2 separate regions of the Homo sapiens genome follow, and region 2 is linked to region 1. The links come from fine-mapping of genetic effects on gene expression. Tissue or cell type: esophagus muscle. Region 1 holds a variant in brackets; the other region holds the start of a gene. All regions are shown on one strand. Distances are between the middles of the regions.

Region 1 (5,196 bases):
TTGAAACATCTAGCTGTGATAAGGGAAATGCTGACCCAGAGTTACTTGGGAGGCTGAGGCAGGATTGCTTGAGCCCAGGAGTTTGAGACCACAGTGTCCTATGATCGCGCCTGTGAACAGCCACTGCACTCCAGTCTGGCAACATAGTGAGACCTGTCTCTTAAAAAAAAAAAAAGTGTCATTCTGGGTCAGCCCCCTGAAGCCAGGGTCTACCCTTCCATTCTGCAGTACTGCTGGGACTCTCAGTTTGGGCAAAGTGCTATGCTGGACCTGCCTGGCCAGGGTCCTGCCTCTAACACTGTCCCCATGGGTAATAGTAGTAATAGCTGCTATTAATTAAGCACAGACACTGTGCATGTGTTGTTTCTAATCCCTTCAAGCTCTGTGAAGTAGGTACTATATTCTCCCCATTTTACAGAAAAGGAGACTGAAGTTCAGAGAAACCCAGTGATTTGGTCAAGGGCACACAATCTAATAAGGAATGGCCTTAGGTTTTTGCCTCCAGGACTGGTGTCCAACCCCAAACCCACACCCTTTTCCCTGTTCCAGGGTGGACATTATGGATCCACAGGCTAACTTACTAGACATGTATCATGGCCAGGCACTGTGACTGTGACTTGGACCTCAAGGGCTTGGGACAGATGGCCTCGAGACATCTAGCTGTGATAAGGGAAGTGCTGACCCAGAGTTCTGAAAGGTCAGGGGAGTCTGGAGGGTGAGGAGAAGCTCTGCCCCGGAGGTGACATTTGAACTAGTCTCTGAAGCGCCAGAGTTCTCCCCAAAGGAAGGAGGTCATTCAAGAATGAGGAAACAGGGCGCCCAGGCGATGGGCTGTGGTGTGTCCTGGGAGCAGCCAATGATCAGCAGAGTAGAGGCAGCGAGTGTTGACCCCCATAGCAAAAAATGAGTGCTGGGGTCTGGAGTCCTCCCTCCTCCTTAACCCTCCTCTGTTATCAAAGACTCAAGGTTAACTCACCTTACGTCTTCTCCCTACAAGTCAGGCTCAGGGAGGGGAGCAGATACCCTGCTTGAGGACCCCCAGGAAACCAGTTCCTCTTTCCTTCTTGTGGAGGGAGTGCCTGGGCTCTGGGCAGGGAAGACCCCCACAGAGGGTGGAGTCCAGCTCCAGGAGAGGCAGCCTGGGCAGGGAGGGGCTGCTCTCCCGGCTGGGCGTGAGTGTCCATGTGCACTTGTGCATGTGCTGCTGTAGGGAAGGGTGTAAATGGCCGTTCAGTGCATTTCCTGGAAACCCACTCTGAGCCTGGTACAGTTCTGGCACTGGGCATGCAGCAGGGAGCAAAGCACAGGAAGTCCTTACTTTCATGGAGTTCGCATGCCAGTGGGAGACGATGGGCAGTAAACACAGACCAGTGAATGTATCATATGTCAGGGGTGACAAGTGCTGTGAAGAAAAATACAGCAGGGTAAGGGATGGAGGGTGGGGGCTAAATAGAGGTTCAGGAATGGTCTCTACAAAGGGACATTTGCATAGGGACCTCATTGGAATGAGAGAGCAAGTCATGCAAAGACCTGGGGAGGAGCTCCCGACAGAGCAGCAGGTGCAAGGGCCCTGGGGTAGGAGCATGCTTGATGTGTCCGTGGACAGCGAGGGACCAGTGTGGCTGGAGTAGAGGGCTCAAGGGGAAGAGGAAAGGGGAAGAGGAGGACTTGTAGGCTAGGGTGGGGACTTACGCCTTTATTCTGGGGAAGCCATTGGAGGTTGGGGCACTGGGGAGATGTGATCTGGCTTTTAACAGGATCCCTGTGGCTGCTGTGTTGAGAACAGGCTGAAGGGGTGAAGACAAGAAAGAGTGGCAGGTAGAGGTGATAGCCTGGACAGGGTGACATAGTGGTAGGTGAGCAGTGGGCAGATACTGGCCAGATTTTGCAGGAAGAGACAACAGGATTTGCTCATGGTTTGGATGTGGAAGGGAGGTGTGACCAGATGAATGCTAAGCCCAAAGAGGGCCTCTTGACACACTGTCCCCCAGCTAGCAAGGACTCTTGCAGGCAGCAGCATTTGTACTTAGAAGGTCCCAGCCTGTCATGGGGGAAGGTCATGTTCCTCTGGGGTCGGCTCCGCTCTGCCTCTTCCTGGCTAGGGGACTGTGGGCAGCTCTCCTTCCCATGAGTCATCACTACAGCTTCTGGGAAGGGGTGTGATGCATTAAGGAGATGGTGTCTGCATGGTGCCACCGCAGGCCATGGCCAGCTGGATCTGTGTCTTCTGCACCAGCCCATCTGGATGCAGTGCAACCTGTCTGGTCTGCTATCCTGCGTTCCCCTAACTGGCACCCTCCTGGGCCAGCCAGCAGCAGGACATAGACCAAGGCCAACCTCCTCCACACCCAGGGCCTCTGCCTTCTACCCTCTGTGGAGTCTCCATTAACTTGGCATTGACAGGGCTGCTTGACTCAAAACAACCCCAGCCCTGCCCTGAAGCCATCTCGCCAGTCAGTCAGAGCTCAAGACTCTCTCTTTCTCTGGAGAAGAGCAGGAAAGTAATCCCAGCTAACCCTCATGCAGCCACCACTCTGTGTCAGAATCTCTTCTAGGCCATTGCATTGAATAAGTCATTTAATCCATATAAACCTGCAAGGAGTAGGTGATATTGTTAACCCCATTTTATAGGCGAGGAAACTGAGGCATGGTGAGGTTAAGTGACCAGCAAGGTGGAAATCTGAGGTTTGACCCATCTCCTGGTGTGGAGTCCAGTTCTCTCAGCTTCACTGATCCTTCCTGATTTGTGCTGAGTTAGGGACCCCTTGGGAAGCCCCCATGGGCAGGGGGTGCTGGTGCTAGCATTTCCTGTGGATTATGGGAGGGGGATGTGTGGAGGACCTGTGTCTACTGTTCCTCTAGCCTCTGGGGGATTTGGAGAACCCACTCTGCCCAGAGATGTAAGTCATCTTTGGATATAGATGAGACTTGTTCCCCCTCCCCCTGAATCCCAGGGCACAGCTCTATGGAATAAGCTCTAGCTGGAACTTGTAAA[G/C]TTTGGCCCAGCCCTCCCTGGGAGGCTAGGAGGTGGGGAAGAGCCAGGAGACTCGAAGTGGTGGTGGTAGTTAATGTCTATGTGGTTAGACGTTAACCAGTTACTCTGTGGTGCCAGGCACTGTCCTAGGCACGCTATAGTTATCATTGTCTCCTTTGGTGCCCCCAGACAGCCCAGGGTCAAGACAGGTAGCCTCAGTTTACAGATGCAGCAGTGGAGGCTTGCACAATGAGTAGGTGGCTTTGTTCAAATCACAGACCTAGGCCAGGTATAAAAGCCTAAGTGTGGTGTAATTCCAGCACTTTGGGAGGCCAAGGCGGGGAGATTGCTTGAGTCCAGGAGTTTGACACCAGCCTGGGCAACATAGTGAGACCCTGTCTCTACAAAAAAAAAAAAAAAAGAAGAAGAAAAGAAAAGAAAAATTAGCCTGGCATGGTGGCATCTGCCTGTAGTCCCAGCTACTCAGGAGGCTGAGGCAGGAAGATCACTTGAGCCAGGGAATGTTTGAGGCTGCAATGAGCTGTAATCACACCACTGCACTCCAGCATGGGCGACAGAGTCTCAAAAAAAAAAAAAAAAATCGCAGACTTGCCTTGGCTAGGAAACGCCTACTGAGAGCTGCCGTCGGTCAGCTGGGCTTTGGAGCCGCCTCCCTGAAGAAAGGTGTCTGGAGCTTCTGGCCTGGGGTATGACGAAGGGCTAGCAAGGAACCCTGTCTGTGGCTCTGCAGCCTGAGATTTGTGGAAATTGAAAATTGGAGGTGGGTGAGTGGGAGGCGGCTTAGCCATCCTGCTGTCCTCCTCTTCTGTCTGCGGGAAGGGGCAGCCGATGCTGTTCCCTGGGTGGGAGCTTGCAATTGCAGAGGGGCCGGTCTCAAGAGGAAGGAGTAGAGATCAGCCCCTGCACTCCCCTAAGAGCCTCTGCCAGGAGCCAGGACAGTCCTCTACTTCCTGCCCCTCCCCCAACCTGGAATTCACCTCTGCCTGCAGCTGGATAACCTGGCCTTTCTATAGATGAAGGAACCAGGCTAGAGGGTTAGGGAGCTTGCTCTGAGCCACACAGCAGGTGAATTGTAGAGTTCAGATTTGAACCCACGCCTTTTGGGGTGATTTTTATTACATGTCACTATAGTGTATTTAACCTCCCTCGCTCACAATTTCCCTCTTACTTGAAAGGTTTTTGTTTTGTTTTGTTTTTTTGAGACAGAGTCTCACTGTGTCACCCGGGCGGGGGTGCAATGGTGTGATCTCGGCTCACTGCAACCTCCGCTTCCCGGGTTCAAATGATTCTCCTGCCTCATACTCCCAAGTAGCTGCGATTACAGGCACACGCCACCATGCCTGGCTAATTTTTTTGTATGTTTAGTAGAGACGAGGTTTCAGCATGTTGGCCAGGCTGGCCTCAAACTCCTGACCTCAAGGGATCCTCCCACCTCAGCCTCCCAAAGGGCTGAGCCACTGCTCCTAGCCCCATCTTACCCGAAAAGTCTTGCCAGCTACTTAATCTATCTCAACCACCACTGACCAAGCGGTTACCATACTCCCTCCTGACACCTACCTCAACACCCATCCCTGTGACATAGGGATTCTTGCCTTTTTTTTTTTTTTTTTTTTTTTTTTTTGAGATGGAGTCTCACTCTGTCACCCAGACTGGAATGCAGTGGCGGGATCTTGGCTCACTGCAACCTTCGCCCCTCAGGTTCAATCAATCCTCCCACCTCAGCCTCCCAAGTAGTTGGGACTACAGGTGCACACCACCACACCCGGCTATTTTTTGTAATTTTAGTAGAGACAGGGTTTTGCCATGTTGGCCAGGCTGGTCTCAAACTCCTGACCTCAGGTGATCACCTGCCTCAGCCTCCCAAAGTGCTGAGATTATAGGTGTGAGCCACCGTGTCTGGCTTCTTGCCTTTTCTTGTCATGGTAAAATATACATAACATAAAACTTACCATTTTAACCTTTTGTTTGTTGTTTTTTGTTTTGAGACAGGGTTTCTCTCTGTCACCCAGGCTTGAGTGCAGTGGCACAGTCTCAGCCCACTGCAACCTCCACCTCCCCGGCTCAAGTGATCCTTCCTCCTCAGGCTCCTGAGTAGCTGGGACTGCAGGTGTGTGTTACCACGCCTGGCAAATTTTTGTATTTTTTGTAGAGACGGGGCTTTGTTGTGTTGCCCAGACTGTTCTTGAACTCCTGAGCTCAAG
Region 2 (5,128 bases), 420 kb before region 1:
ACCTCCCCATATCCTGGACGGCCCCTTATTTCCTCAATTCCCCACGGCGTCTCCTGAAAGGGCATGAGGCATCTGGCAGTGGGTGGTGGCAGACGTGGCACAAGCTGACTCACAGCAGAGATGGCATGGGGTGGTCCTCCCAGGGGTGGCAACAAAGGGTGATGGGCAGGCCTTATGTGATAAGAAGGGAAGGAGACCAAGAGAGGAGGAGGACTCGCTAGGAAGGTTGCTGGGTGGCTTGGGTGCAGGGCTGATTCAGCCTGGGGGCAAGCAGGAGGCTGGCCAGTGATTCCCAGGGGGCACCAACACTGATGAATAAGCCTGGAATGTTGGCATCACTGCCTGAAGGGCATTGGCCCCCTCTGTTGTACCTGCCTCACACTGAGCTTGGTGGGCGGCACCCAACTGTACTCTTCCATCTCCACCCACAGTCTGGAGACAGGAGCTTCTTTGGGCCAGGTTGAGGTGCAGGATGGAAGGAGGCTAGCAGGGGTCCTGAGTTCTCTCTCTGCCCACCTCTGCCCTGCTGAATACCCCCGACCCAACCCACAGCCCAGTCTGTGTTAGTGCAGAATCCTTCACAAGAGTGATGTATAGGGGAGGGGCGGAGGGCCGGGGCTCCAGCTGGCCTGACACAGAAGGGCCGGATCAGGGGTGTAACCCCTCCCCTCCCCTACTCCTTGAATCTCCAAGCTCAGACCCAGAGGTGACAACATTGGAGGGTCCCTGGCCTGGGAAGAGGGAGAGGTACAGACCTGTGGCCCTTGACCTTCCCTCCCCACACAGCTGAGCAGGCAGCTTGCTGGAGTACTGAGGCAGCACTACCCCACACTCCTGCCCGCCTTCCAGCACTCCCACATAGGAGGAGGCTGGAGAGGACAGGCCTTGGTGTGGGAAACAGGGCAGGGCCTGGGAGGCCCCCAAGCCCCTGGAGGCAAGCAGGGGGACTGTGTATGTCTACCCAGGTGACTAGAGGGCAACCGAAATCAGGGGCATTGGAACTCAGGGGAGGTTCAGCTCCTAGACCTTCTGCTTGACAGAAGTTGTCACAAATATTCCAAGCAATATCCTCCCACCCAAACATCTTAGTCCTTTCCCAGGAGAGACTGAGACTTGGCTCTCTAAAGGGGAGTCAGCTCTGGCCTCACAGACCAGAGTCTCATTTTTAGAAGGGGGCAAGAGAGAGTCAGGTGTGCATGTGAAGACTTGAATGTGGAGACCTGCTGGGTCCCCTGGTGCAGGATGGGGGCTCCCTGGGGTGCCTCTGCCAGACTCCACCCTGACCCTACGGCCTCCTCCTCCGGTCACTCCCTTGATGACCTTGACCTTGAATTAACCTCAGCTCCTGCGGGATGGTCAAGATGGAAGAAGGAGGAAGGGGGACAGTGGAAAGAAGCCTAGCGAACCCAGGACGCCTCCGGAGCCCAGGCTCCCATCATTTCTGGTCCTCACTGTCCCCTTTCGCCTCTGGAGAACAGGAGCAGGATGGGAACAAAATACCGGGTGAAGGGGGAGGGAGGAGGTCTTGGCCTGAAGTCTGGGAGGTGGCAGGGCGCGCCCTTGGCACAGCCCTTTCTATCCCAACCCCAGGCCCGCTCAGGTTGATCCCGCAGAAACAGAACTTCTCGCGGGCCAGTCGCCAGCACCTAGAACTTGGGAAGGGAGCAGACGGATTAGAGGTCGGGGGAGTGCTGAGTGTGAGCGGCGGCCTCCCCACACCCCTTTCAGCGCCAGGAGTCTGGGCTCCGCCTGCCTTCGCGGGGAGTAATTTATTCATGGTGACTCCCTCAGGAGTAACAATCATCCATAATTAGGGTTAATGATGACATTCATTAATTACGATGACTTCTCTTTTTGCTTCTACCCGCTCCCCCTCCTCTGGTCCCGCTCCCGTGGTGGGGCGCGGGGCTGCCTGTCTTTCTGGTCTGGAGCCACAACCGCAGGCCCCCGTCCTCGCCCGTGACCGACGGCCGGCGCTGCTGCAGGCCCCCTCGCGGACTCCGCAGCTGCGCACCCCCGGCCGCGGCCTCGCGTCCCCGAGCCCAACAGGGCTAGGAGCGGGGAATGCAGGACTGCGGAGGGGCAGGGAGAGACGCCCTGAGACGCGGAGATAAACACCCGGAGACGCCGGGAGAGACGGGGAGAGACGCACACAGAGACACCAAGACACAGACACGCAGGTTGTAGAGACAAATTCAGAGACACGAGCGAGGATAGAGGCGCGGACTGAGCCCGGGACTGGGACCCGGCGGCCGCTGGAGGGTGCGCCTCGCACGCACAGCCGGGCGCGTACCCCGCCCGCACCGCTCCACGCGCGCCCTCCGGCCTCGCTGCGCCCATCTCTCCAACGAAGACCAGTGGCCGCCTCCCCAGAAGGTCGCGATGGCGCGCGCGGGCGTGCGGTGCCGGTGTGATCGGGGGCTCCTTGTGGCCCCTCGTCGCCAACCCACTCCTACCCCCGGGAGCGGCGCGGAGCCTCAGTGGTCACGCGGGCCTCGCGACCGCGACCCTAGGACGCCCGGGCCCACAGGAGGACCCCGCCGGGAAGAGGGCGCCCGGGCCCGGGGCGCGGACAGGCCTTGCGCCCCCCAAGTTACCTTGGTTTCCTGGAGGGCGGAGACGGTCCCTGGGGGGCTGTGGGTGGCCGCGTCATCCGGTTCGTTCTCCTTCTCGCTCATCTCGGTCATGGTTCGGGGAGAGGGGAGGAGAGGGTGCCGAGATCCGACGGCAGGCCCACCGCGGGCAGGCTGCGGGTGGCGGGCGTCTCCGGGACTCTGAAGCCGTTCTCCAGAGGCTGCCCCCAGTTAGCCCCCGGCACGGCAGCCCCCAACCCGCGGGAGCGGGCAGAGAAAGTTGCCGGGGTGGCGGGCGAGGGGAGGCCACCACGCTGAGCCGCAGGAGCGGGACGACCCCGGGCGCGAGGACCGAGGGTCTGCAGAGGATGCTGCTCGCAGCGCGGGGAGGAGGGAAGTGGGGCCGCGGGGATGAGCCGAGGGAGGGAGCCAAGGAGCTGTCCGTGTCCAGCCGGCTCCGCCGTCCGCTGCGCCCGCCCCCCATCCCCTCCCCTCCCCCGCCGGCCCCAGCCCGGCACCCGGCGGCCCCTCCGCCCAGTCCTCGCCGCCCAACTTTGATTTAGGAGGTCGCCTGGTCCCGCCCCCTGCCCTACGCCGCTCCCCCGCGCAGCCCTGCAAATCAGGCTCTCAGCTATTGGCTGCCTCGGTGGCCAGGAGGGCGAACTGGGCGGAGTCTTGGGGGGCTCGACACGATGGGGCGGGGCTTGGCGGGGAAAGAAGCGGAGGAGGGAGTTTCACACTGAAAAACCCGGGATGGAGGGGCGTGACCAGATTGAGGGAAGCTTGGGGAGATCATAGTAGCGTCTGGATGGGTTGCAGGGAATAGAAATAGGTTGGGGCCGCAGCAAGATAGCGGAGAGTGAGATCGAAGCTAGGACTTCCAAAGAGCGAAGATTGATAGATGCCAGAGGTTGGTGAAGGAAGAATGGGGACCCATCTGTGCCATTAATTGGATGCCTTTATACCCTGAAAAGGCTCTCTCCAAATATACACACAACTGGACTATGGTGTATGTGTCAAAGGCCAGGCCGGACAATTCCTCCTTGTGATGGAAAGCCGGATGACTCTATCCCCTTCCAGTCTTGGCGTCTGAACTTCAGCAGAGATGGGGGCTCAGTCCTCACACCCAAAGTCCCCAAACTTCTCTGAGACACGCTCCCCTCCTAAAGATCCTACCACAACTGGAGTTAGATCAGGGGATAATACAGAGAGGTGGGGGAAGAGGTCCTCACCATCACCTTCCAAGGTGCCCCTCTCTCCACAATAACCTTCTATTTTTTATTTTTTTATTTTTTTATTTAGAGACAGGGTTTCACTCTTTCACCCAGGCTGGAGTGCAGTGGTGCGATCATAACTCACTGCAGTCTCAAACTCCTAGGCTCAAGCAATCCTCCCACCTCAGCCTCTCTAGTTGCTGGGACCACAGGCATACGCCACCATGCCTGGCTAATTTTTAAAATTTATTGGTAGAGACAAGTCTTGCTATGTTACACAGGATGATCTCCAACTCCTGGGCTCAAGCGATCTTCTCACTTTGGCCTCCCAACGTATTGGGATTACAGGCGTGAGCCACTGTGCCCGTTCAAGATATTTCCAATATTTCTTCTTCTCCTTCTCTTCTTCTTCTTTTTTTTTTTTTTTTTTTTTTTTTTTTTTTGGAGACAGGATCTTGCTCTATTGGCCAGGCTGTAGTGCAGTGGCTTGATCACACCTCACTGTAGCCTGGACCTCCTGGGCTCAACCCTCCCAAGTAGCTGGGACCACAGGCACATGCCACTGCACCCAGCTAATTTTAAAATTTTTTGTAGAGATGGAGTCTCGCTATGTTGCCCAGGCTAGTCTTAAACTCCTAGGCTCAAGTGACCCTCCTGCCTCAGCCTCCCAAAGTGCTGGGATTACAGGTGTGAACCACCACACCTGACCAAGATACCTCTTCTAATGCATGTTGATTATCTGGGACCCATTTTCTCAGGTCCCCCTCCCTCACCTCCAGCCCTCTTTCCTTCTGCCCCTTCTGGCTCTGACCAGCAGATCTGGCTTCCTCTCTTGGTCTGCCCAAGAAAAGGGAGATGCACTGGTGGCTGAGAGAACCTTTCCCTGGTGTGGGTGGAGAGACTTCTGGGTTTAAGTCTCCCTCCTCCTCTGCTGTGGGTGGTAAGATTGTGGGTGGGGGGTGCCACATGGGGGGCCTGAGGTGCTGAAGGGGGCCCTTATGCTAGCCTGAAAGTTGAGGGGTGGGGTGAACACCTCCACCCCCCACTCACCTCCCCCCATGCACACAGCCATTCATAGGATCTCTGCCCTCCCAAGCACGAGCTCACCATTGGAGCCCTGCTCAGGTTACCCTGTCCAGGAATAGAGATTTATTTGCCAGTGGCAGAAGTAGGACAAGGGCACAGTGAGGGTTCATGGTTGTAGGGGCTCTGACTTCGAGATTTCCTGAGGAAGGTGGGATGGAGCCTGAGTGCCATCAAATCAGTCTCCCCAAAGGCCTGTTCATGGCCAACCTTCCCCCATCTCCCACTGGACTGTCCTTCTCACTCCTGCCCAGCCCA

Alleles and levels. Alleles are on the strand shown, and positions count from the first base shown. SD is a standard deviation of normalised expression in the study named.
With allele C in place of G in region 1, the expression in esophagus muscle of the gene that starts at base 3,130 in region 2 is lower (large effect, 0.87 SD a copy in GTEx).

What was found. PIP is the estimated chance that this variant, and not a neighbour inherited with it, causes the effect.
Region 2: it holds the start of STAC2, and the variant in region 1 is fine-mapped to the expression of STAC2 in esophagus muscle (GTEx, PIP 0.91).

The regions. Positions count from the first base shown.
Region 1 is chr17:39,641,294-39,646,489 of GRCh38, forward strand. All of the region lies in intron 1 of STARD3 (StAR related lipid transfer domain containing 3), which reads left to right. Among named protein-coding and RNA genes, the nearest start is that of STARD3, 6.7 kb to the left of the region's middle. The variant G/C (reference allele first, on the strand shown) is at 2,996.
Region 2 is chr17:39,222,816-39,227,943 of GRCh38, forward strand. It overlaps STAC2 (SH3 and cysteine rich domain 2), which reads right to left and starts at 3,130. Exons shown (of 11, transcript NM_198993.5): 1 at 2,598-3,130. The coding sequence starts at 2,687. RefSeq lists a silencer at 556-725 and an enhancer at 2,388-2,888.